7 linked regions of the Homo sapiens genome follow. The protein of the gene in region 1 purifies or fractionates together with the protein of each later gene. This does not show direct contact. Each region holds a gene or a part of one and is shown in the gene's direction. Other genes may lie near its edges. The genes, in order: AGBL4, DMXL2, DMXL1, MTO1, C5orf34, ESPL1 and PANK4.

Region 1 (3,500 bases):
AGGGGCAGAGGCCCACAAAGGTCATAGCAATTTTTGAAGTTGATGAGCTGAAAACTCACCTGCCCATTGCTTCAAGCCAGGACATTAGTGGAGATGATGAATTTCTCTGCGTGTTAAGATGCACTCTGAATCCCAGAACTTTTGAATGTCAAACCAGGAAAGGAATTGGCAGATTATTTAGTCCAGTCCCCTCTTTACACCTGAGAGTAAAGAGTGGCCCCAGAAAAGATGAGTATTCAGCATAAGGTCACCCAGCATTTAATGATAGAATCAAAGCAGGTAGCTCCCCATTTGCAGCTGTGGGGCAGAAACAGCCATACCTTTTTCTGTAAGAATCTCTATAGGATGGCCCTGTCTATTTGAGACCACTGCAATTTCAGAAAAGAATGTGGCCTCCTTAGTCCAAGTTCCCTGGAAGGCTGGGTCATAGGCCTCAGAGACCCTCCTCATGTGGGTGAAGTTTCCAGGGACTACAAAAGGGGCACAGTCTGACAGCCTTATTTCTGGGCTTGCCTGATGTTTCTGCATTGCAGCCTCCTTAAGGGTGGGAGTCAAGGTCATCTGTCCTGGTCCAATTGCTGTCTCTTCTCTTCCCTTCTCTTCTCTTCTCTTCTCTTCTCTTCTCTTCTCTTCTCTTCTCTTCTCTTCTCTTCTCTGATCCTCAATGCCCAACTCTAAAACAGGAGAGTTGGAGTTTACTACATGGATTTCAAAGGTCTTTCAGATCTGACATTCTATGATTTTCTGATTTTTCCTTTACCTTAAAATAGACACACACACACACACACACACACACACTTCTCTGTTTCTTTCACAGTCTTTCTGTGCCTTTCTTGTATTGGTGTTTACTTTATCTCTTTTCCTTCTTCCTTTATCTCCTGCCGAATAAGACATGTATTCTCTTATTAAAACCATGGTCTGTTCATTTGCTTAAATTTCCAGGGGTTAGCATAGAATGCCCTTCTAACCCCAAGTGAACTGACCCTCACAACTCTGTGAAAGAGATATTATTTTCACCTCCAAGTTACAAATGAGGAAACTGAGACTAAGACAAGTAAGTCAACTTGCCTGACATCATGTACTCAGTGGGTAGTAGAGCATGTCTTTGAACAGAGGACTTGAGAGTGACATGCTTGTTCATTTCTCTATCCACTGTGATGGGTGCTGTCAACATCTTAGTAAAGAAGCAGCCATGATCCCTATGCTCTAGTGATTCTGGACATGAATCAGCTATCCCTAAAGGAAGTAGATTCTTTGGTTGTCTGGAGTCACTTAGTTCTGGATTCAGATTTGTGCTGTATCACTTACTTGCTCCACCTCTATGAGCAATCTCATATTCCTCATCTATAGAGAGGAAACCTCAGTTTCCTCATCTATAGAGAGATAAAATGTGAACACCTACTTCAAGTGGTTATTTTGAAGCCTAAATGAGATACTGCATGGGAAACAATATCATACAATTGAAAGCACTGCCCAAATTTTAGGGTTTTATTTTTGTTTTTGTTTTGTTTTACTTTTTTTCTTTTTAAAGAATAGAGACATCCCAGCACTTTGGGAGGCTGAGGCAGGCGGATCACGAGGTCAGGAGATCGAGACCATCCTGGCTAACACAGTGAAACCCTGTCTCTGCTAAAAATACAAAAAATTAGCCAGTCGTGGTGGTGGGCACCTGTAGTCCCAGCTACTCAGGAGGCTGAGGCAGGAGAATGGCATGAACCAGGGAGACGGAGCTTGCAGTGAGCCAAGATCGCGCCACTGTACTCCAGCCTGGGTGACAGAGCGAGACTTCATCTCAAAAAATAAATAAAATAAAATAAAATAAAATAAAATAAATAAAATAATAATAATAAAAAGAATAGAGACATGGTCTCACTATGTTGCCTAGGCTGAACTCACACTCCTAGGCTCAAGCAATCCTTCCACCTCAGCCTCCCAAGTAGCTGGGACTACAGGTGCACACCACCATGCCAGGCTCCAAATGTTAGTTCTGATTATCATCAAAATGTAGTTGCTTCTTTTTCCTCTGTCTGCTTTTCCCTGCTCCCTCTCTCTCCATTCATTTTTCCACAAATATTCGTTGAGTGGCAGTTACTGCACCTCAAGAACTCTGCTTGCTTCTGTCATTAATTATGTTTATTTAATCAGTCCTTATAATAATCATGTGATGAGGGGCTAATATCCCACTCTTCAGACAGTGAAGCTGAGACCCAGAGGTGTTGTAAAATTTGCCCACAATCCAATTTGCAGCAGGTGCCGTGATTCTCTCCTCCCTACTCTGTCTTTCACAGTCCAGCACATCCTTTAACCGGGACGCTGTGAAAGCAGGAACTGGCCGTCGCTTCCTCGGTGGACTCCTGGACCACACTTCCTATTGCTACACCCTAGAGGTCTCCTTCTACAGCTACATCATCAGTGGCACCACGGCTGCTGTGCCCTACACTGAAGAAGCCTGTATCCTTAGTCCCCACCCAGCCTTGGGCCAGCCCTCATCCAGCCGAGAGTATCCAAGTCTGACAGGTCAGGAATTAGGCCCCCAGCTCAGGTAAGGGCTGAGACTCTCAGGTGAGGATGGAGGTGCTTCTTCTTCTGGTGGCGTCTTTGGATTGTCCAGTTTGCCTCAGCCCTTAGTATGATACTCCTACCCCAATTGCCATGCTCCAAATCTTTCCCAGGCCAGCCGGACCCATGGCCTGCCCATATCTTACTCTGCTTCCATCTCTCTCCCCTCTCTTCTCTCATGATGCAGTGAGTCTCCTGCCATCTAAGCTATGCAAGTCCACAGGCTGGATGACCATCCCCAGGGTTGCTGAGGAAGAGCTTGATGATCTTGACTCCTTCTAACCCTGAACATACAAAAACATATGTTCTCTTTTCATCTTTTGTCTAACCTATCCTCTCCCACTTTCTCTTCCCTCTACTCACTATTTCCCCTTCTACTTACTTTTCTCACCCTTGTTCCCTCTCCTTCTATGCCCTCCTCCTCCCTCCTCACCTGTCCTGTGCTTCTCTTTCCTTACTTCTTTTTCCCCCTCCTCCCCTCCTTTCTGTCCTCTCTCTCATCCCATCCTCCTTTTCTTTCTCTCCTCTTTGCCTGTCTTCTGTCTTCCTTGTCTTTCCCCTCTCATCCTCTGTGCATCTTTCTCTCTGCCTTTGCATTTCCTTTGACAAATTCCTTTTCCTCTTAGTTTCTTCATAAAATTTCTCTGAAAACTCCAAAGCCTTCCATGATGAAATTAGAAGTTATTTTCTAGTTTGCCTAATTTTTTAAGGATTAGGTAGTAACTCTAGTTTCCCGAGTGTTGATTTTAATATCAAGGTCACTGCATCAGAGCTGTAACAGATCGTGGCAGATTCTGCTTTCCTTGATCCTTTGTTTTCGGGTTGATCTATGTCTCCTTTCCTAACACTTAGTTTTCTCAGAGAAGTGGAGGGAGGAGGAAGGAACTTTAGATGAAATGAACTCTGTATTTCTGCAAATTCCCCCTCCCTGGAGGTAGAAG
Region 2 (3,500 bases), on another chromosome or scaffold:
AGATAGTGCTTGTGCTGCAGCAGCTTGGCTCACTGGCGGTAGGTGGAGGGCACACACCTTATGCTCCTAATCTGGGTCAGTGCCGTTGCGTGAACTTCTGACGTCTCTCCAAACTGGACACAGGGCTTGCAAGTACTATGGGATTCTTCTGTTGTAAGGACTGTAGATGTTTGTGGTGGCCATGAGGGCTGATGGGGATCTTCTGTTTACCTTTTCCCCTCTGCAATGAGAAGTTCTTCCTGACTGTGGGCAGATCCAGTCTGGGTGGGGGAGATAGGGCTGCAGAGGCCGGGTACCTCCACACTGCTCTCCTAGACTTGCAGTCACCACAGGTGCATCTCCACTCCCCTGCTGCACTCTAGTGCTCTCCCTTTGACACTCCAGTCAAATCTTAGCTGTTTATTCATTGCCTTGGTCCTTTCTTTTCGGAGGATGAATGCCAGGTGTGTCTAGCAGCCATCTTGCTGGCATCATTCTCTTGGTTTATTTTTATGGATGCTCAGATTGTTCTTTCACAAATGGGAACTTCTTCAGGTTTCTGAATTCTTCTGGCATTATTTCTTGATAGTTTTCTTGCTTTCTGGTACTACAAAATGTTTAAGGGTCATCTTGTACATTTCCTGCCCCAGACCTGGAAATGACCATTCCTCCAAAGCATTCTGCTTCCTTTTAGTGGGGAATAATATTTAGAAACTATAGTTTGGGCACCAGGATCCTCATTGGTACTAATCTTGTCATAATTTCTAGACTATTGCAATGAATGGAATTAGGAAATTTTTTTTCCTTAGAATTTAGGAGTTTACCCTGCTATTTCTCATGCACATATAGATTATAGGGTTCTTTCTTCTTAGATGTTAAGTTTGTGTCTTATAATGAAATGTTTGGATTCTCATGGCATGAACATAGTTATTTGCTATCTATGTGCATATAAGTTTCAGAATAATAATATAGATATTTTTATAATAACATGATTCTGAACATAATTTAAGCTTTTTTGCAGAATTTTTTTGTTTTATGGTACATTCTGCTAAGGATGTACAGTCAAATTACTTGTTTTTAACTCACTTTTTAGAGTTCATCTCTGTGTGATTATGCTACCAACTTGATAGACTGATTTGTTTAATTTTGCCTTTTGTGAATTGTGGTTTAGATTTGGTTTTATTTTAAAATTATGTAAAATGTTGACATGGTGTTAAAATAAAATATATAAAACCAGTGTATTTTCAGAGAAATCTAGCTCTTTTTTTCCCTGTTTTGCTCTCCCCTTTTAAGGAATCAATTAAAATTTTTTGTGTTTGTCTTCCATTTAAAAATGATAAGCCAATATGCATGAGTGTGTATTTGTATTTCCTCTTCACTGTCTTAGATAGATAAAAGGTAGCTTACTACATGTACTTTCTGCATCTTCTTTTTCTTAGTGTATCCTGGACATCACTCTATAGTGATGGGAATCACTCCGTAGCATATTGGGAAATTCTTTCTATTTCAGCTGTACAGTTGTAATGATTGTATATGCCATAGTGTAACCTATCGTAGGTTAATATTTACATGTTGTTTTTTTGAAGAAATGCTGACGTATTTTATTGTTTTGTAATGTAAATACATATTAACACAATGCTTTGTGATTTTATCTGTTTGATTTCTATAGTTATCATCAAGTCTTGTAACCCGGTGGCATTTAGTTTTTATAACTACCTTCGAACTCATCCTTTGCTCATTCGAAGAAATCTTGCCTCCCCTGAAGGAACTTTGGCAACCTTAGGTCTCAAAACTGAGAAGAACTTTGTTGATAAAATTAACCTCATAGAAAGAAAATTATTCTTTACCACTGCAAATGCTCATTTTAAAGTTGGATGCCCTGTTTTAGCCTTGGAGGTACTCTCCAAAATTCCAAAAGTAACCAAAACATCTGCCTTATCTGCAAAAAAAGATCAGCCTGACTTCATTTCTCACAGGATGGATGATGTACCTTCACATTCAAAAGCTCTGAGTGATGGCAATGGAAGTTCTGGCATTGAATGGTCAAATGTAACTTCATCACAGTATGACTGGAGTCAGCCAATAGTAAAAGTTGATGAGGAACCTCTTAATCTTGATTGGGGTGAAGATCACGACAGTGCCTTAGATGAAGAGGAAGACGATGCTGTTGGTTTAGTGATGAAAAGTACAGATGCCAGGGAAAAAGATAAACAATCAGATCAGAAGGCCTCAGACCCTAACATGTTATTAACACCTCAGGAAGAGGATGATCCTGAAGGTGATACTGAAGTTGATGTGATTGCTGAACAACTAAAATTCAGAGCTTGTTTAAAGATCCTTATGACTGAATTAAGAACATTGGCTACAGGTTATGAAGTAGATGGAGGAAAACTCAGATTTCAACTCTATAACTGGCTTGAAAAGGAAATTGCTGCCTTGCATGAGATATGTAATCATGAATCAGTTATTAAAGAGTATTCCAGTAAGACATATTCCAAAGTAGAGAGTGATCTGCTGGATCAGGAAGAAATGGTAGACAAACCAGATATTGGTTCCTATGAGCGCCATCAAATAGAAAGAAGAAGATTGCAGGCCAAACGAGAGCATGCAGAAAGACGAAAGTCGTGGTTGCAGAAAAACCAAGATCTCCTGAGAGTATTTCTCAGCTACTGTAGCCTTCATGGGGCCCAAGGTGGTGGTTTGGCTTCAGTAAGGATGGAACTCAAATTTTTGCTACAAGAATCACAACAGGTGTGAATATCACTTTTTTTTCAATCTTGGTTATTTCAGTAATTTCAGTAGCTCTTCCAGTTATAGCTATAAAGCTCTTTTACTACTTTTTACTAGTTAATCTAAATATGTTCAGCTCCTCTCTTTATAGGAGGCAGATATTTATACTCTATGTGTCTTAGACTGAAGTTTTGATAATAAGGAGTAGGCTTAACAGCTTGAGAGTATTCTTGTGTCATATTTATCTATATACCATCTACATCTAGCATAGTACCTGGTACATACTGGGTGCTCAATAAATTTGTGTAGAATGAGTGAGCGAACATATTCCCTTTACACAATGTTTATCACCAGTATTTCTGTCAGAGAACTGATAAAATTTTTTAAACTACTTTGAAAAAAATAATTCACTATCACCCACAGGAAACTACAGTAAAGCAGCTCCAGTCTCCACTACCACTGCCTACCACCCTACCTCTGCTTTCAGCAAGTATTGCGTCAACAAAAACAGTCATAGCTAATCCTGTATTGTACTTAAATAATCACATCCATGATATACTTTATACTATTGTTCAGATGAAAACACCACCTCATCCCAGTATTGAAGATGTGAAGGTAATGTAAAGTTTATGATCATTTGATATTATACACCCTGAGAAGGTAAATATGTTATACCTGTCTTTTAATTCGAACTTAGGGGAAATATTTCAAAGTGCTACCTTTCTCACTCATGATCAGTTCAAGACTATTAGTCCAATGAATGTAATTTAAAAGTAAGTGTTCTTACTTCT
Region 3 (4,195 bases), on another chromosome or scaffold:
GCTGGGATTACAGGCGCGTGCCACCATGCCAGGCTAATTTTTTAATTTTTAGTAGAAACTGGGTTTCACAATGTTAGCCAGGCTGGTCTCGAACTCCCAACCTCAGGTGATCCCCCCGCCCCCACCTCGACTTACCAAAGTGCTGGGATTACAGGCGTGAGCCATCGTGCCTGGCCTATTGGAGAGTTTTGAGGGTTGTTTGTTTTGAGACGGGATCTCACTCTGTCACCCAGGCTGGAGTGCAACGGGGGTCTTGGCTCACTACAACCTCTGCCTCCCGGGTTCAAGTGATTCTCCTGCCTCAACCTCCCGAGTAGCTGGGATTACAGGTGGGAGCCACCACGCCCGGCTAATTTTTGTATTTTTAGTAGAGAAGGGGGTTTCACTATGTTGGCCAGGCTGGTCTCGAACTCCTGACCTCGTGATTCACCCTCCTCGGCCTCCCAAAGTTCTGGAATAATAGGCGTGAGTCACCGTGCCTGGCCTATTTGGAGAGTTTCTATACACATTCATGCAACATTTACAGAACACCCTGAATGGGTGGGACTGGTGCGGTGCTAGACATTAAGGACAGACTTGTGTCCTGTTCCTCTGTATTCCAAAGAGGCTTACGGTATACAGGGGGAGACATATAAACAGATGTTTGTCAATTATAATACAAAACTTGTGTCAAAATACAATGAGAGTTGAATCTCAGTTTGTAGCTGTGACTCTGATCATTCTGGAATTCCTAGGTTCTTTTCCAAAACAAACGCTCAATGCAGGGCTGGTGTGTTGTTATTACCAGCACTATTTCAAATCACGTGTTAAGATAACTTAGGCTAAGAAAATACCACTTTCCTACTTGTCAAGTGTTCGAGCCTTTCAAAAACCATCCCGTTTAGGGACTTGGAAACACGCGCAAGGCTGGAGAAACCATTAAGCTGCTAACGTAGACGTTTCAAGGGTCACATTTACTCAAGAGACACTCAGGTCGCCCGGGGGAGCGGTGCATATTGGGACTTGTAGTCCTACCAGAACCGAGGAAACTGCAACTCCCTTTAGGATGCACTTCTCCCCTTTAAATTTTCTGGCCCAACAGTTAGATGACGCCCTAACCTAAAGCACAACTTACCACATCTCACTCATTCTGGGTTCATCAGGCTTCTGCCAGGCTTATCAGGTTCAAGCTCAAACGCACGGCGTTCTCCTGTAGAAGCCTCAAAGAGATTGGCTTATTCTCGGTGGTGGGCGGAGCCCTAGGTGGACCGGGGGTCGGGATTGGCCAGTTTCTGACTAGAAGAGGCGTTTTTATGTTCACTTGCTGATACGCACGCTGTGGTAAAAAAGTGAATTCTTTACCACAGTAGCAGCTGCCCCGAGCGAAGTCTCGCGATATTTCGGCCGCAGGGATCCAGAGGCGCGTAGTGAGTGGCGGAGGACTGTGGGGGTGGCGGGCACCGGAGCCGGGAAGGGACAGGTCAGGCGGGGAGTGCGAGCGCGTACTGCTTGCGCCACTCGGGCTGGGTCAGGAGCGGCTGCCCGAGGTCCAGAGGAAGTGTGTGGACAGCGCGGCCTTCCTGGCCGGTGAGTCGGCCCCGGGTCGTGGCCGGTGAGGGGACCCTGAGCTTCACCTGGGCTAGCGCGGGGAGTGACAGGTGCGCGAAGGAGCGCGGCGCTCCGCCCTCTCGCCGACCCGCCCCCTCCGGGCCTCGCCCTCCGGGGCTCGGGATGAGTCGCGGGCCCCAGCTGAGCGGCTCCGGCTCCAGGCGCCTGTCGCTGCTTCTGCCGTCGCCACCGAAGAGCGGCCGCCGCCCCTGAGGGAAGGAGGGAGGGAAGCAGCCGCTGACCCGTGGCATGAGCTGGATGCGGTGTCCGTTGCAGGACTAGGGCGCCGACATGAACCTGCACCAGGTGCTGACCGGGGCTGTGAACCCTGGCGACCACTGCTTCTCCGTGGGCAGCATTGGCGACCAGCGCTTCACGGTGAGTGAGGGAGGCCCTCGCGTCGCCCGTGGCCCGGCCTTTGCCCGTCATTCTGGGCCGAGCTTGGCCCAGAACGACGGGCAGAGGCGCGAGGTCTTGTCTCCCCAGGGGGGTCCTTACCACCCAGAACCCAGCAGACCTGGCCCTTGAGAACTAAGGAAGCAAAACCATGTCGGTCAGTGAGGTACTGTATGGAGCCTGAACTCAAGTTAGAATATTTTGTAGGATTTTTAAAGTTTTTGGTCTGTCTGCCTTGGGCCAGGGTGCTTTGCCAAAGTCGTTTGTTCAAAAATCTTTGTTGAGTAACGAGTTGGGGGCTTTTTTATACCATTCTATAGGTTCAAATTGTCAAATTTAGGAATAGTGGAGATTGGTTTCATTTTGTATTCTAAGTTAAGGTCAAGTATCTTTGTAGTTAAAAAGTGGGTGTCTCAAAACAATTACCAATTGTTTGCCATCAACAACTAGCCTTGAGAACAGTGTTTTTCATTTATTTTCTTTTCTAATTCCCTGAGAAATAACTTCGGAAAGAAAAAAAAGCCTTTTCATTTTTAAAAATATTTCTTGGATATTTTACAATAACCTGGTAATCCCAGGTTAAGGTTGCTTAACTTGCTTTTCATTGGTCACATATTGACAAGAAGAGGGCACCAAATTTCGGGCTACTTGTCAGTATAGTGGCATTTTTCTACCTTAACTATAGGTTTTTTTTTAATAACAATTTCAAAATATAAGTCAGTAATTGCACATGATACTTTTATCTACATAAATTTATAATGCTAATGATTTTTGCTACAATTTGTGTAGATACCTCTTTAGTTGTGATTAAAAGTAAAACTTGTCACTGCCTGGGAATACTAAGTGCTGTAGGCTTTTTTCTTTAAAAAAAATAAAAGTAAAACTTAATTTTGTATAAGTGACACAAAGTAAACAACGTAACCAATGCCCCAGGTTTAGGAGTGTTAAATTTCTAATCTTTTTCTCTGCTTTTAATTTTTCTGTGGTCTTTGTTGGTCAGAATAAATAATACTCAGCATTTAAAATGGTGGAGGCATTTAATGCCTGAATTGTACTTTTAGAATTGTGCCAAGAAGCATTTTGTTTTCAAATAGAGACTGTACCTCCCCTTTAGATTGACTCATACACATCTTAATTATCGGGATTCCAATTCTAAATGTTTGCCCAGCCTGAATACTTGGGAAAAGAGTGAGCTCTGAGGGTCCCAGTGAGCAACTATAGTTTCCTTACACCTGGGCATTGCTCTCTGCTCTTGCTGCTTGAGAGGAAAGTAAACATCATCCTTAGAAGGTTTTCCTAGTGGGAAATTATAGGATAATATTGTTGCATTCTCTGTCATTTCCTAAATTTATATGAGTGCTTTCTCCAGTGTAAATTCTAAGAACTTTTGCTTTTTAAAAACTTTTGAAATGAGGTCTCCCTCTGTCACCTAGGCTGGAGTGCAGTGGCGGGATCACAGCTCACTGCAGCCTCGACCTCCCCGGCACAAGCCGTCCTTCCACCTTAGGCTCCTGAGGAGCTAGGACTACAGATTCTAATCACCACGGCTGGCTAAGTTTTCTATTTTTTGTAGAGAGGGGTCTCCTTATGTTGCCCAGGCTGGTCTTGACTTCCTGGGCTCAAGTGATCCTCCCACTTCAGCCTCCCAAAATGCTAGGATTAGAGGCGTGAGCCACCATGCCCAGCCCTAAGAATTTTTTCTAAGAAGGCATTCACAATCTATGTAAGCAGTGGTGTGAACTTCAAAGCATATGCAGTATGATGGCCTATTTATATACCTGGATGCATTCCTCTATAAAACCTTGGTGAATGTCTGTGTATTGTTTTTAAGGAGAGATCAGTTAATGTGCCGAGGAGGATTAGATAGATGGTCATCCTGTACCATCATGTAGCTTGTTGCTCAGTTCTGCTGAATTTTAAAGTTCATTTCCATTGAGTAGGATTTAATCTCCCACCAAGCCTACTGCAGATTTCTTCCAGGTCTCTGGAAGCATTCAGTAAATAAACTAAAAATAAATTTTTAAGTATAAAGAGAGTTCAGCTCTCTTTAGTTTTGATGGAATTTTAAGGATTTAACAGTCATGGTTTTCCTTTGCAGCCTGTTCATCCTTGACTCTTTAAGTTGCTTACGCTCATTATCCTGGACACTTATATACACCTTAAATTTTTCTCTCTTGAAATCGCCCTTTTTTCTTCTCTCATGTTAAAAGGC
Region 4 (3,000 bases), on another chromosome or scaffold:
GGAGTGCAATGGCGCAACATCAGGTCACTGCAAACTCTGCCTCCCGGGTTCAAGCGATTCTCTTGCCTCAGCCTCCTGAGTAGCTGGGATTACAGGCTTGTGCCACCACACCCGGCTAATTTTTGTATTTTTAGTAGAGACAGAGTTTCACCATGTTGGCCAGGCTAGTCTTGAACTCCTGACCTCAGGTGATCCACCCACCTTGGCTTCCCAAAGTGGGTGGATGACCTCTGGGATTACAGGCGTGCGCCACCGCGCTCGGTCTATATTCACCAATTTTAAGATGCACATCTTTCCATATTTTAGTATCTCTAAGTTGGAGTATGTCTTACAATTAATGGCATCTGACAGTTATAACTGGCAGCATTTGTGACTGAAAAACATCTTAGATGCAATGAAATACAGTGTGTGTGTTTGTATTGTGCTGCAATATAAAATGTATTTCAGGCCAGGTATGGTGGTTCACACCTGTAATCCCAGCACTTTGGAAGGCCAAAGTGGGAGGATCACTTGAGCCCAGGAGTTCAAGGCTGCAGTGAGCTCTGATTATACCACTGTACTCCAGCCTAGGCAACAGAGCAAGACCCAGTCTCTAAAAAATAAATGAAAATGTTTCTTATTGTGGATCACAGTCAAAAGTTTGAAAAAACACAATCTGTTTGAACAGCACTACTTTCTGACAGGAAAACCCCAACAGGTTAGGATCTGTGTATTCCTCAGAGTAAGAATTTTTCTAAAAAGTTTTTAAAAACTTAAAGTCTTACTGATCTCTTCCTATGCTCCAATTTTATAGATATAACTTAGCCTTGCGAGGTGATGTAATTAAAGTCTAACTTCAAGTTGCTGTTGAGCATAGATCTCAGGTCTTCTGACTTCACAACACCTTTCTGCCACTTTCAGTGGATTTTTCCCTCCTAGGGACCAGAGGTCCTCTACTGGATTAAAAGTTTCTCCATCCCGGCAGGGTGCGGTGGCTCACGCCTGTAATCCCAACACTTTGGGAGGCCAAGGCGGGCGGATCACGAGGTCAGGAAATAGAGACCATCCTGGCTAACATGGTGAAACCCCGTGTCTACTAAAAATACGAAAAATTAGCCGGGTGTGGTGGTGCGCGCCTGTAGTCCCAGCTACTCGGGAGGCTGAGGCAGGAGAATGGCGTGAAGCCAGGAGGCGGAGCTTGCAATGAGCCGAGATCGCGCCACTGCACTCTAGCCTGGGCGACAAAGCGAGACTCTGTCTCAAAAAAAAAAAAAAAAAAAAAAAATTCTCCATCCCTTTTGAACAATCTGGAAGTCTGTTTCTCTTAACCTTCAGTTCCCATTCCAATCCTTTGTAACCTATTTCAGGTTAAGCATTTATGGAGGTGCCATGCTTAATTAGCCATTATGGCACTCACTCTATTTCAAAGGTTATCCCAGAATTTGGAGGCTGTAGGGGAATTCAGAGTGTGAATTTCACTTGAACAGCACCCTCTGCAGACTTAAAATATTCCTCCTATATCTGAAGACAATAATAATTTCTTAGAATTTGCTAGGCTAAACAACTATTTTTTAGTCCAGTGGCTTGTAATTAAGTCATTTTTAGTCTTTAATTATGTTGGTTGCTTTTAGAATTCTCTTTTAGAGTTGGTCTACATCCTTTTAAAACATGGGCAATCCAAATTTATAACAGTAAATTAAGATACATAAAAAAAAACACTGGCTAAATTTAAAAGGAAACACTTCTAGAATATACTGTATTTTGACACAAGACCAGACTGTGCTATGTGTATGTGGTGTTTCAAGTAATTTAAGAAAACTGTTGGAATTTTCTGTATTTCCAGTTTCACAAGAAACAACCTCAAGGAGGGCAGTTTAACTGAAAATTCAGAGGTATTATAGCTCTGAAGAAAAATACTGATGAGCAGTTATACAAAATGAGAAATTGAGTTCTAAGAAATGCATCCCTAACTTCAACATAAAGATAGCTATGAGAAAACATTCTTTGTACCCAACCATAAATGAATAAAAATCACCTCATTTCTCATCAGATGTTTACTGGGTTGCTAGTTATATATAGAATCCTGCAAGAGGCTCAACAGGGAAGTCCAAAGAGTCAATCAAGAAGGTATGATAATGGCTAAAGATGGGGACTGTAGGTCAATGCTCCACGAGGTTCTTCTTTTGTTGCACCAATATAGCTGCACTGTTATACCCATATGGTTACAATCCAGGCCTCAGAAAATGTTGCAGATGCCCTCACCAGAAGGCTGAGAACCAGTTCCTCAGTTTGCATGCCTCCAGACAGCACTAGAAGTCAAACTCAAATTGCTTACATGGTAACTTGGTTTATCCCAACACCAACTAGGATATTCCCTCAATCACATGATTGTACTGAAAATATAACCAAGTTTTATTTATGTTTTTCATTTGGTATTAGCCATCTGGTATTTAACCTCTGAAAACCACACAATCTTCTATACGCTTTTTTCACTGGAATAAATGAAACTGCTTACTTTTGACTTAAGTCTATTTCGCTTTATACGAGCAATAACCCATATTTCGGACAATGTCTCAAAAGAGATTGTGTTAAAGGAAAATCCAGGCTGCATATTGTGCTTTTATCTGTTTTGAGTTAGCTTTAAATGTAAAGTTTGACAAAAGCAAAACTACATGAACTCTTTTAGGGAAACCATGACTGGCTAAAATAGAAACTTTTAATTCCTAATACAAAGATTATTTACTCCCACTTTGACCTTATAACTCTAAGTGGCAGAGCAAATTACTTTTGTGTGCCCAAAAATGGCAAGTAAATTTAAAGCTATCACCTTCTTCACCTTGCTTTTATTAAACATTTGATAAAATTTTCACAATTGCCTTGTGATTAAAATTATGAAATATGGCCTATGTTATAGTATTGTTAGGTAAATTTTCAACCACTTGGCCCACCATAATCAAGTAACAATTCTCTAGTGCAGTACCACAGACCTCTTAGATTTACTTTGTCTAGTACTTAAAGTAA
Region 5 (3,500 bases), on another chromosome or scaffold:
ATACAAAAGTAGACAAATATAAGGGACCCCTATGTACCCATCACCCATCTTGTTCATTTATACTTCCTGCTTCTCCCTCCACTCCCTGTTTATTTTTAAGTAAATCCCAACCAAATATTGTTTTCTTCATAAATACTTCAGTATATATTGGAACAGATTCCCAACTGGGGCCTATTTCTAGGAAAATATTTAGTAAATACATATTAATTGAACAGTAACTCTTTGGCAGGCATTCTGGTAAGCACTGACAAGGATGAAGATGAAGAAGAGTTCCTGCCCTCAAGAGTTCACAGTCTTGTGTTCAGTTAGACAGGCAAACAAGCAAATGAGATACAAGCATGCCCAGTAACATGTATACGTATATATGTGTGTATGTGTGTTTATATAGTACATCAGACAATCAAGTGAGCAAGCAAATAGAGTAGGTATGCATAGTCATATTGCTGACTGCTGTATATCAGAGGGTGTGCAAAATTGCAAGATAAAAGGAGTGTGTCTTCCTGGAGCTTCAATTTTACTCAAAGCTGTTGCGGGAGGGGGTGATAATTTTTATACTAAAGCAAATATATCATGGAGTAGAAGCATGAGCTTTTGGGTTAAAACGCATTTGTGGTGGACTGCCTTGGGCTTCACTCTCCAACCTTTGTGTGCAACACCTTCACCTTTCTCTGTCTGTTTTAGTGCAAAGGTTTAGAAACAATTGACCCTCTTTTGGGGATAAAGTTGTTTGCTCCTTACTTTAACCCAGACTCCAAAATAAATTTCAGATGAATTAAAGAGCTAAATGTAAGAAACCAAACTTTATAAGTGTTAGAAGAAAATATAGAAGAACAATGTTTAAAATCTCTGGGTAAAGGAGGCCTTGTTAAGTAGAATACAGAAAACCAGAAGGCATAAAAGAAAAGTTTGACAAGCTTGAAATCTTCAAACTTACGTTAAATTATAAATATTTAGGCTGGGCACAGTGGCTTATGCCTGTAATCACAGCACTTTGGGAGGCCAAGGCTGGTGGATCACATGAGGCCAGGAGTTCGAGACAAGCCCAGCCAACATGGCAAAACCTCGTCTCTACTGAAAATACAAAAATTAGCCAGGCATGGTGGTGCTTGTGTGTAATCCCAGCTACTTGGGAGACTGAGGCATGAGAATCGCTTGAACCTGGGAGGTGGAGGTTGCAGTGAGCCAAGATCACACCACTGCACACCAGTCTAGGAGACAGAGCAAGACTCTGTCTCAAAAAAATTTTTTTAATTAAAAGAAAATTTTAGAATTTCTGTTAAAAAGATAAGCAAAAGCCCAGAAGATATTCCACACTATAAATCAGTAATAGACCAAAAAACCAAAATACCCTAATAGAAAAATGGGCAAAGGGTAAAAATGGATTTAGCCATAGAAAAGATAATGTAAATTAAAAAGTCATAATATTTGAAAACATATTCAACTTTACTACTTGCATCAGGGAAATGCAAATTAAAATATCAATGACATAACATTTTTCCCTTACCAAATTGCCAATAACTAAAAAGACTGATGACATCTGCTGGGAAGGGTGTGGGAAAAGTGGTGCTTTCATAGTGTTGGTTGAAGTGTTAATTGGTTTGGCTTTCTTAAAGGACAATTTGATAACATCAAATGAAATTGATGAGAAATTCTGCTTCTCAGTATCTAGCCTAGAGAAATATTTGCACGTGTTCAAAGAAGCACGGCCAAGGGTGTGTTTTGTGGCATTATTTGTAGCAGCAAAAAATCAGAAGCAACCTAAATAAATGTTCATTAATAGGGAAATGGTGAAATAAGTTGTAATTATCAAATTATGGGAATGGTGTACAGTAGTTGAAAAGAATGAGGTAGATGTCGATGCATACAGTAATAGATTCTGGAAGATCTCAAAGATCGGGTTGTTGAGCGAATAAAGAAACTTGCGTTAGAACACGTACAATGATATCTTTTGTGTAAAGAACAAAAAATAAACCCATACCTATATAGTACTTTCTGTAATACACATGCACAAGCACAAGTAAGGATCCTGGGCAAATACACACTGAAGTAGCTATGTTTGGGAAAGAGTGTGGGATTTTGTGAGGGAGGAGAAGTCTGAGAGGACTCAATTTTCATACTTTTTGAACTTTTTTTAACAAAAACTTAATGTATTATTTATTGTATAATTAAAAATTGAAATAGGAAAGATTGACAAGTACTCACAGTGTAAGTACTTCCATAGAGATAAGAACTTGGTGCTTTGGGACCACATAAGAAAGGGCACCAGACCCAGTGTTTGAGGCTCCAGAAACAACTCCTGAAGGAAAACTTGGCTAAGCTAGGATCTATAATTCCAAAGGAGGAGTTGTACAAAAGACAGATGGAGGTAGGAGGAGCATATAGCTAAGGGAACAATTTACTTTCTCAATTGTTTGCATGGCTGGCTTCTTGTCACTCAGATTTCTATCTAAATGTCATCTCCTCACAGACGCTTTTCCTGACTATTCAAATTAAAGAAGCTACCCAAGACACTCCCTATCATGACATCCTCATGTTTTTTCTTCAAAGCACTGAATATTGGGTGACATTTTCTTAATGATGTATGTTCTTTATCAGCTACACTAGATTTAAGCCCTATCTTATTCAACACATTATTATTGCTGCTTCTTAGCACAGTTTATAAATGGCACCTAACTGGACACAAGAGCCTGGGGCGAGTGTGGAGTGTTGAAGGAAGTGAAAATGTTGTAGTTTGGTAGGCCAAAACATAGATGGGATGCTGGGGGAAATGTCCAGAGAAGAAGCCAGATCACTAAGATGGCCAGCTCACAACTGGAGCATGAGTAACCTCACTGCATTTGGGGAACCATTGAATGATTTCAAGTAGGGAAGTGACATCAGATTTTTGTTAGATTATTTCAGAGGAAGATGAACTGGGTGGGGAAGAGGTAAAACTTGAAGCTGTAGAACCAGTCAGAAGACATGTATAGTAGTTCAAGTGAAGGCCAGGCAGTGGTAGGAAAAATGAGAAGGAATATTAAGGAGACAGAATTGATTGCTGACTGGACGCTGAGGATGAGGAAGGAGTTGAAAGGGATGCCAAATTATTAATCAATGAATGGTGGTGCCCGGTACTGTGTGAAACCAAAATTTTTATCAAATCTAAATTTTTTTGATGATGGCTTTTTTTTCTTTTGCGCCTACCATGAGATGTCAATTAAGGATTTGAGATTATTAAAATTCAACTATATCTCAACCCCACCTGCCTAATAGATTATAAGACACTCTTAATTGTAAGATGGATCCAGATTTCAGAGAGGTTAAATTGTGAAAAATGAGCATTTTAGAGTTGATGAAATAGGGTCTTGGAAATAAGAACCCAGAGGGAACTCAATATCCAGTAGAGAAAGACATAAATAATTAAAATATGGTATTTTGAGTGCTTCCCATGTGCTAAGCACTGTGCTAATAAATGATAATGATACAGACATGAGCAAAACAGACACAGCCCCTTCCTTCAT
Region 6 (3,500 bases), on another chromosome or scaffold:
TTCCCTTTCTCTGGTCAGTTGCACAGGTGCTTCCGGCTACAAGTAGAGAGTTTGAAGAAACTGGGTAAACAGGCCCAGGGCTGCAAGATGGTGATTTTGTGGCTGGCAGCCCTGCAACCCTGTAGCCCTGAACACATGGCTGAGCCAGTCACTTTCTGGGTTCGGGTCAAGATGGATGCGGCCAGGGCTGGAGACAAGGAGCTACAGCTAAAGTGAGTTGAGGGCCAGACGCAGTGGCTCATGCTTGTAATCCCAGCACTTTGGGAAGCCGAGGCGGGTGGATCACTTGAGGTCAGGAGTTTGAGACCATGGCCAACATGGTGAAACCCCGTCTCTACTACAAATACAAAAATTAGCTGGGCATTGGCCGTGCACAGTGGCTCACACATGTAATCCCAGCACACATGTAATCCCAGCACTTTGGGAGGCCGAGGCGGGCAGATCATGAGGTCAGGAGATCGAGACCATCCTGGCTAATACGGTGAAACCCCATCTCTACTAAAAATACAAAAATTAGCTGGGCGTGGTGGCGGGTGCCTGTAGTCCCAGCTACTCGGGAGGCTGAGGCAGGAGAATGGCGTGAACCCGGGAGGCGGAGGTTGCAGTGAGCCGAGATCGTGCCACTGCACTCCAGCCTGGGTGACAGAGGGAGACTCCATCTCAAAAAAAAAGTGAGTTGGGGAGGGGGTCAACCATGTTTCTCCCATGGATAGGGTGGCTTTTGGTACTCATGGTCATGTCCTTTCATCTTTATGTCTGAAAAATACTAATTCCTTCATTCATTAGTTATTCATTGAGTGCCCACTGTATGCTAGCCACTGTGCTACTTGGGGGGTATAGTGGTGACAGTGGTCTTGCTTTCATGGAGCTTATATTCTACTTGGGGAGATATTTTTAAAAAGTACATTTTGCATTTTGTGTCTGTTCCTTTTTTTTTTTTTTTTTTTAATAGAGACAAGGTCTCACTATGTTGCCTAGGCTGGTCTTGAACTCCTGAGCTCAAGTGATCCTTCCACCTTGGCCTCCCAAAGTGCTAGGATTACAGGCATGAGCCAGTGCGCCCAGCCTTCACGTATGCTCTATGAAGACAATTAAACTGATTTGCTAAAAGAGGGAGCAACTTGAGGTGGGTTATTTAGGAAAACCCTTTTTGAAGAAGTGATAGATGAGACCTGAGGATGTGAAGGAATCTACTTTGTAAAGATCTCAGGGAGCCTGGGCAACAAAGCGAGACCTTGACTCTACTTAAAAAATATTAGCCGAATGTGGTGGCATGAACCTATAGTCTATTTACACTTGGTTAGGAGGCTGAAGTGGGAGGATCACATGAGCCTGGAAGATCAAGGCTGTAGTGAACCGTGATCACGCTATTGCACTCCAGCCTGGGCAACAGAGTGAGACTGTCTAAAAAAAAACAAACAAAAAACTCAGGGAAGAGAATTCCTTGCAGAGAGAGTAGTAAATACAAAGGTTGCAAAGTGGGAACAAACTTGGGACCATGCTTGAGAAAGCCGGCATGCTGGGGGTAGTAGAATAGCGGTATAGGATGGGGAACCATATGGAATGAAGGTGGTCAAAGTGGGAAGCGGCCAGATCACACAGGGCCTTATAGGCCATGGTCAGGGCTTTGGAAATGATTCCTAGTGGGAGCCCACTGCCGTTTGTTAAACAGAGGAGCAATGCAATCTGATTTAAATTTTTAAAGCCATGACTGGAAACCTACTGAGCAAGCCAAGGCTGGGGCTCCTCAGCATGGGAGCAGGTAGCAGAGGCTTTATGCCTCCTGGGTTCCACCCTGGTGCTGAGCATGCCCTCTCTCAGGACTCTGCGAGACAGCCTCAGTGGCTGGGACCCGGAGACCCTGGCCCTCCTGCTGAGGGAGGAGCTGCAGGCCTACAAGGCGGTGCGGGCCGACACTGGACAGGAACGCTTCAACATCATCTGTGACCTCCTGGAGCTGAGCCCCGAGGAGACACCAGCCGGGGCCTGGGCACGAGCCACCCACCTGGTAGAACTGGCTCAGGTGCTCTGCTACCACGACTTTACGCAGCAGACCAACTGGTAAGGAGTAGTAGCTGCAGAGGCCACTCTTGCTCCTTGCCCTAGGTCCTCTCACCCTCTTGAGAACCAGTTTCCCTCTCCACAGCCCTGAGCTCTCCCTTCATCTTGTGGCCATGGGAGCACATGCAAAGGGCGAGGCCAGCTGTTCTGCAGCTAGCCCTTCCCAGGGCGCTATGGCAGATACTCATAGTAGGCCCAGCTTAAGCACATCTTCTCCCTGCAGCTCTGCTCTGGATGCTATCCGGGAAGCCCTGCAGCTTCTGGACTCTGTGAGGCCTGAGGCCCAGGCCAGAGATCAGCTTCTGGACGATAAAGCACAGGCCTTGCTGTGGCTTTACATCTGTACTCTGGAAGCCAAAATGCAGGAAGTGAGTGTGGCTGCTGTGGGGCTCACCAGAACTGGGTGTAGGAATTACTGTCCCTGGGCCCCCAACAAGTTGGTATCAGCCCTTTTTTTTGTTCGTTATTTTTAGAGATGGGGTCTCTCTGTTGCCCAGGCTGGTCTTGAACTCCTGGGCTCCAACAATCCTCCCACCTCAGCCTGCCGAGTAGCCAGGACGATAGGCCCACACCACTGTGCCCTGTTTTATACCCCGATCTTCCCATCCAGGGTATCGAGCGGGATCGGAGAGCCCAGGCCCCTGGTAACTTGGAGGAATTTGAAGTCAATGACCTGAACTATGAAGATAAACTCCAGGAAGATCGTTTCCTATACAGTAACATTGCCTTCAACCTGGCTGCAGATGCTGGTGAGGGGTAAATGGAGTGTGGCATGGGCATCTCCATGGCTTCCTAAGAGTGGAACAGGGACCCCTGGTGAGGGAAACCCTGACCTTGTAGGGTAGGAGGTTGTGGAAGCAGTGGGAGGTTGGCGTAAAGGGCAGAGGATGTTATGGAGGAAGGGAAGTTCTCTCCAGATGGCCCATGCTGAGACAGCAGTCATTTTCTTCTGGCTTAACAGCTCAGTCCAAATGCCTGGACCAAGCCCTGGCCCTGTGGAAGGAGCTGCTTACAAAGGGGCAGGCCCCAGCTGTACGGTGTCTCCAGCAGACAGCAGCCTCACTGCAGATCCTAGCAGCCCTCTACCAGCTGGTGGCAAAGGTAATGGGGTGGGGCATTGAGGGGGACCCATATAAACAAGGACTAGACCAGAAACAGCTCCCTCGCCTTCTTTGGCCTGTGATCCTCCTGAGAAGCCATGAAAGCCAGTGATGGAAGCGCAGGGCTGTATCACCAGTCTTATTTTAAATCCAAGCTCCCTCATTCATTAGTGTATGGCCTTGGGCAAGTTGCTTAACCTAAGCCCAAGTTTCCTTATCTCTAAAATAGGGGCCATGCTACTGCCTCGTGGCGTTATTATTCAGTGCAGCAGTGCATGGAAGAGGTATTGTGTAAATGGTATGCTCAAATGTTAGCTTTAGTCTGGGCAACACGGCGAA
Region 7 (3,500 bases), about 46 Mb from region 1:
GTGGAGAAGGGCAGAGGGCCAGCATGTGACCTGTGGGGTAGCCACCGGAGGGTGGGAAGAGGCGGTCAGCTACACAGTTCCCCTCATAGCCCCTCTGGTCCCAGAGCAGCGGCTGCTGCGGTGAGCGTGCAGAGAGCCGAGTACTGATGTGTGCGTCGGCTCAGTTCAGTTCACTTCCTCCCGGCATAAGGTAGAAAAAGCCAGCAGGGCCCGTGAGCGCGCCTGTGCTGGGTGCAGGTGGCCCCGGGGTGCCCTGGGTGCATAATGGCCTGGCCCTGCCATAGTCCTTCATGGACAGAACGTGCTGGGAGGCCCGGCAGCCATGGAGGAAGAAGGGTGCATGTGGGGCGTGGGGACTCCCTGCCCGGCACGGAGTGGAACACTGCCTGGTGCTTAGTGAGGACAGAACCCCAAACCTCTGTGTGCAGACACGGCCACCTGGAGGACCAGAGGTGGGAACAGTGTGACTGCAGGGGTCACGGGAGGAGGTGAAACTGTAGGGGTGACAGGGAGGGGTGACTGCAGGGAGGTGGTGATGGGGGAGGGAGTTACTATAGGGATGGTGGAGGAGGGGTGATGGGAGGGTGACTGCAGCGGTGATTGGGGAGGTGTGGCTGCAGCGGGGAGGTGCTGGGGGCAGGAGGCGTGTGGTGGGAGCAGACGCAACCCCAGTGTCAAACCAGGGGGTAAGTCAAGGTATCCGGCTCAGGCCGCCGGGCAGCTGAGGGGGCCCAGTGGGGGTCTCGTCTGTGGCCCAGAGACGTGGCGGAAGAAGGCAGTACATCTCCCTTCTTAGAGAGAGAGTGGAAGCTTCTGAGTGTGGCTTGGGTCGTTCTGAACCATGGTGACGTTTCCACCCTGCCACTGCCTGTCTTCCAGTTTGACTTGCTGGAAATGGACCGGCTGGAGAGGCCACTGGTTGACCTGCCGCTCCTCCTGGACCCGCCCTCCTACGTGCCCGACACGGTGGACCTCACCGATGACGCTCTGGCCCGAAAATACTGGCTCACCTGCTTTGAGGAGGCCCTGGACGGGGTGAGGGCTCCGGGTGCCGTCTAGACGATTCCAAGGCCGCAGCCGGGTTAACCTTCCAAGGCTCCGGGGGCAAAGCCAAGGTGGCGAAGGGGGACAGGCCAGTGTTGTCCAGAAACCCCTTGATCTGCGTCTGAGTGAGGGGGCGATTTTGGTTTCTCAGGCAAAAATACCGCTCCTGGCCACCTGGTGGGTCAGTGAGGACGTGGCGTCTGCGAGGCACGTTGCTTCTAAGGGCAGCTGATAGTTCTGCTAGCTAGCACATTCCTTCAAAAAGCAATTTAGGAGACGTCTCTGCTCTTTTGAGGTGTGACTGAGGTGCGGGAGGCATTGTGGGACCCTGACTCTGGGGGTGGGGTGAGACTCAGCCCCAGCAAGCTCCCGGCGAGGCCACCTTGGGACTCCTGCGTCCCACCTTCTCCAAGGCTGGGCTGGTCCCGTGGAGCAAATGCCAGGCCCTGGGCCACGCTGCCCCTCAGGAGCTCAGCTCGGGGCCAGGGAGCCCCGGTAGCAACACGCACTCTTCACGAAGCCCTCGGAGAGGCCGGGTCGTGCCAGGGTTTGTCCTGAGGGAGGAGTCCCAGCCCTGCCCAGGACCCGGAGTGAGCTCTGAGTGCCCAGAGCCCCTCGTCCCCGGCACAGGATGGGGGCTCGAGTCTGAGGACGTGGGTCTTGGCCTCGGGTTTCCTGGGGGGTGAGGGACCAAGGTCACTCCTGCTCCTGCCTCCCAGGGCAACTGGGAGGGGCGAATGGCAAAGGGAAGCCTCGGGTGACCGTGAACTGTCACCGTCAGCCTTTCCTGTTCCAGTAGAAACTGCCCTGACCACAGCCCAGGCAGCCCCCACCCTGCCCGAGTCCCCCACAGCAGGCCCTGACCCTGCCCCGGGAAGCCCCCCATAGCTAGCCCCCACCCTGCCCCAAACAGCCCCCGACAGCCGGCTCCCACCCTGCACCAGGCCTCCTACAGCCGCCCCCACCCTGCCCCAGACAGTCCCCCACGGCCGACCCCCACCCTTCCCCGAGCCCCCTGCTGTCACGTGGGGATTCGCAAGCAGCAGGGCCAGCGCTTGACTAACCCCCTCCTTCTGTCGCTGGCAGGTAGTGAAGCGCGCAGTGGCGAGCCAGCCAGACTCTGTGGATGCAGCCGAGAGGGCGGAGAAGTTCCGGCAGAAGTACTGGAACAAGCTTCAGACCCTGAGGCAGCAGCCCTTGTAAGTGCCCAGCACCCCGGTGTGTGGCCACCTCTTCCATCCAGAGGGCCCCTGCACCTCTGAGAAAGTGCCGTGATGTTGGCATTCGGACCCCAGCTCGCTGGGGGTGGGTGTGGGCCCTGGCGGCACAGCCCCCTTGGACCCCGCCTCAAGCAGCGTTTGCACTGCCGGGCTCCTGAGGACGTCCGTGGCACAGCCGAGGATGGCAGACGGGCGGGTGTTCGGCCTGCCCTGCTCAGCGCCCTCTGCCGTGTCTGTCCCCAGCGCCTATGGGACCCTGACCGTGCGCAGCCTGCTGGACACCAGGGAGCACTGTCTGAACGAGTTCAACTTCCCGGATCCCTACTCCAAAGTAAGTGCAGTGTGCCCTGGCCTTCCGCTCGCTCTTGTCCCCGTCCCGCTGGCACCGCGTGTCCTGTCTCTGTCCCGCTGGCTCGGGGCATCCTGTCCTGTCTGAGGCCATGCAGGTTTGGTAGCGGCCCCAACTCCAGCCCTGGCACCACAATAGCCAGGGCCTCTGTTGGCAGCATCTGCTGAGGAGCTGTGTTACCCCCACAGATGCTGGGGCCACTTAGGGGTGGGGACTGCTGTGACTAGAGAAGAAGGGTGTGAACCCCAGTTTGGATGTGTTCCTGACAGACACAGGCTGCCTGCCTGCAGGAGCCAAGGGCCTCCCAGCTTCTGTGAGGGTGGGCGATTGTGGTTGGGGACTGCTTTCCCCTCATGGGGAGGGGCTGGAACCCTGGACCACCCTGGCTCCCTCCTAGGAGGCTGGACAGTGACCAGAGGCCTCCTATCCCGGCAACGTGCAGGGCCGTGCAAGGTGGGCCTTTCCGGGCGTCCGTTTTGCTTCCCCAAGTCTGGCGGCCAGAGCCCTCCTTGGCCCTTTCTGCCAGGAGGCAGCGGGCAGCAGCGGAGGCATGGACTCCTCCCACCTCTTCTGGGAAGGGCCAGCGCCATGCCTCCCTCCCCTCACACGCCGAGCCTTGTGACAGCGGAAGTCTGGGTGTCGAGGGTTTTGAGGCCAGGGCTGTGGGTACCTGTGGGGGCCGTGTCCTCCACTCTTGTCCTGCCCTTCACCCACTGCTCAGTCACATGGGGGCTGAAGTTGTCCTGGGCCTCGTCCTCAGAGCCCCGTGCAGCTGTGCGCTGGCCACTGTCCCGGACCGATAGGCTTGTGCCTGGTGGGGTCCCAGTTGGGCCTGAGTCTTCGATCCTGAGGGGCGTGGTATGGAACAGGCTGCGCCTGGCAGGTGT

Evidence for each region.
Region 2: the proteins of AGBL4 (region 1) and DMXL2 purify together in Homo sapiens (affinity purification with mass spectrometry; one large-scale study listed by BioGRID and IntAct). This does not show direct contact.
Region 3: the proteins of AGBL4 (region 1) and DMXL1 purify together in Homo sapiens (affinity purification with mass spectrometry; one large-scale study listed by BioGRID and IntAct). This does not show direct contact.
Region 4: the proteins of AGBL4 (region 1) and MTO1 purify together in Homo sapiens (affinity purification with mass spectrometry; one large-scale study listed by BioGRID and IntAct). This does not show direct contact.
Region 5: the proteins of AGBL4 (region 1) and C5orf34 purify together in Homo sapiens (affinity purification with mass spectrometry; one large-scale study listed by BioGRID and IntAct). This does not show direct contact.
Region 6: the proteins of AGBL4 (region 1) and ESPL1 purify together in Homo sapiens (affinity purification with mass spectrometry; one large-scale study listed by BioGRID and IntAct). This does not show direct contact.
Region 7: the proteins of AGBL4 (region 1) and PANK4 purify together in Homo sapiens (affinity purification with mass spectrometry; one large-scale study listed by BioGRID and IntAct). This does not show direct contact.

The regions. Positions count from the first base shown.
Region 1 is NC_000001.11:48,585,955-48,589,454, reverse strand, and holds part of AGBL4 (cytosolic carboxypeptidase 6), read left to right. Parts: intron 1-2,288; coding exon 2,289-2,451; intron 2,452-3,500. UniProt on the Homo sapiens protein: Metallocarboxypeptidase that mediates protein deglutamylation of tubulin and non-tubulin target proteins.
Region 2 is NC_000015.10:51,479,772-51,483,271, reverse strand, and holds part of DMXL2 (dmX-like protein 2), read left to right. Parts: intron 1-1,648; coding exon 1,649-2,730; intron 2,731-3,132; coding exon 3,133-3,324; intron 3,325-3,500. UniProt on the Homo sapiens protein: May serve as a scaffold protein for MADD and RAB3GA on synaptic vesicles. Plays a role in the brain as a key controller of neuronal and endocrine homeostatic processes.
Region 3 is NC_000005.10:119,069,692-119,073,886, forward strand, and holds the start of DMXL1 (dmX-like protein 1), read left to right. Parts: upstream 1-1,395; 5' UTR 1,396-1,878; coding exon 1,879-1,965; intron 1,966-4,195.
Region 4 is NC_000006.12:73,506,737-73,509,736, forward strand, and holds the end of MTO1 (5-taurinomethyluridine-[tRNA] synthase subunit MTO1, mitochondrial), read left to right. Parts: 3' UTR 1-2,500; downstream 2,501-3,000. UniProt on the Homo sapiens protein: Component of the GTPBP3-MTO1 complex that catalyzes the 5-taurinomethyluridine (taum(5)U) modification at the 34th wobble position (U34) of mitochondrial tRNAs (mt-tRNAs), which plays a role in mt-tRNA decoding and mitochondrial translation.
Region 5 is NC_000005.10:43,498,149-43,501,648, reverse strand, and holds part of C5orf34 (uncharacterized protein C5orf34), read left to right. Parts: intron 1-3,500.
Region 6 is NC_000012.12:53,274,799-53,278,298, forward strand, and holds part of ESPL1 (separin), read left to right. Parts: intron 1-18; coding exon 19-212; intron 213-1,821; coding exon 1,822-2,061; intron 2,062-2,284; coding exon 2,285-2,429; intron 2,430-2,671; coding exon 2,672-2,810; intron 2,811-3,022; coding exon 3,023-3,162; intron 3,163-3,500. UniProt on the Homo sapiens protein: Caspase-like protease, which plays a central role in the chromosome segregation by cleaving the SCC1/RAD21 subunit of the cohesin complex at the onset of anaphase. During most of the cell cycle, it is inactivated by different mechanisms.
Region 7 is NC_000001.11:2,513,097-2,516,596, reverse strand, and holds part of PANK4 (4'-phosphopantetheine phosphatase), read left to right. Parts: exon of another isoform or gene 1-519; intron 520-879; coding exon 880-1,035; intron 1,036-2,130; coding exon 2,131-2,243; intron 2,244-2,507; coding exon 2,508-2,595; intron 2,596-3,500. UniProt on the Homo sapiens protein: Phosphatase which shows a preference for 4'-phosphopantetheine and its oxidatively damaged forms (sulfonate or S-sulfonate), providing strong indirect evidence that the phosphatase activity pre-empts damage in the coenzyme A (CoA) pathway.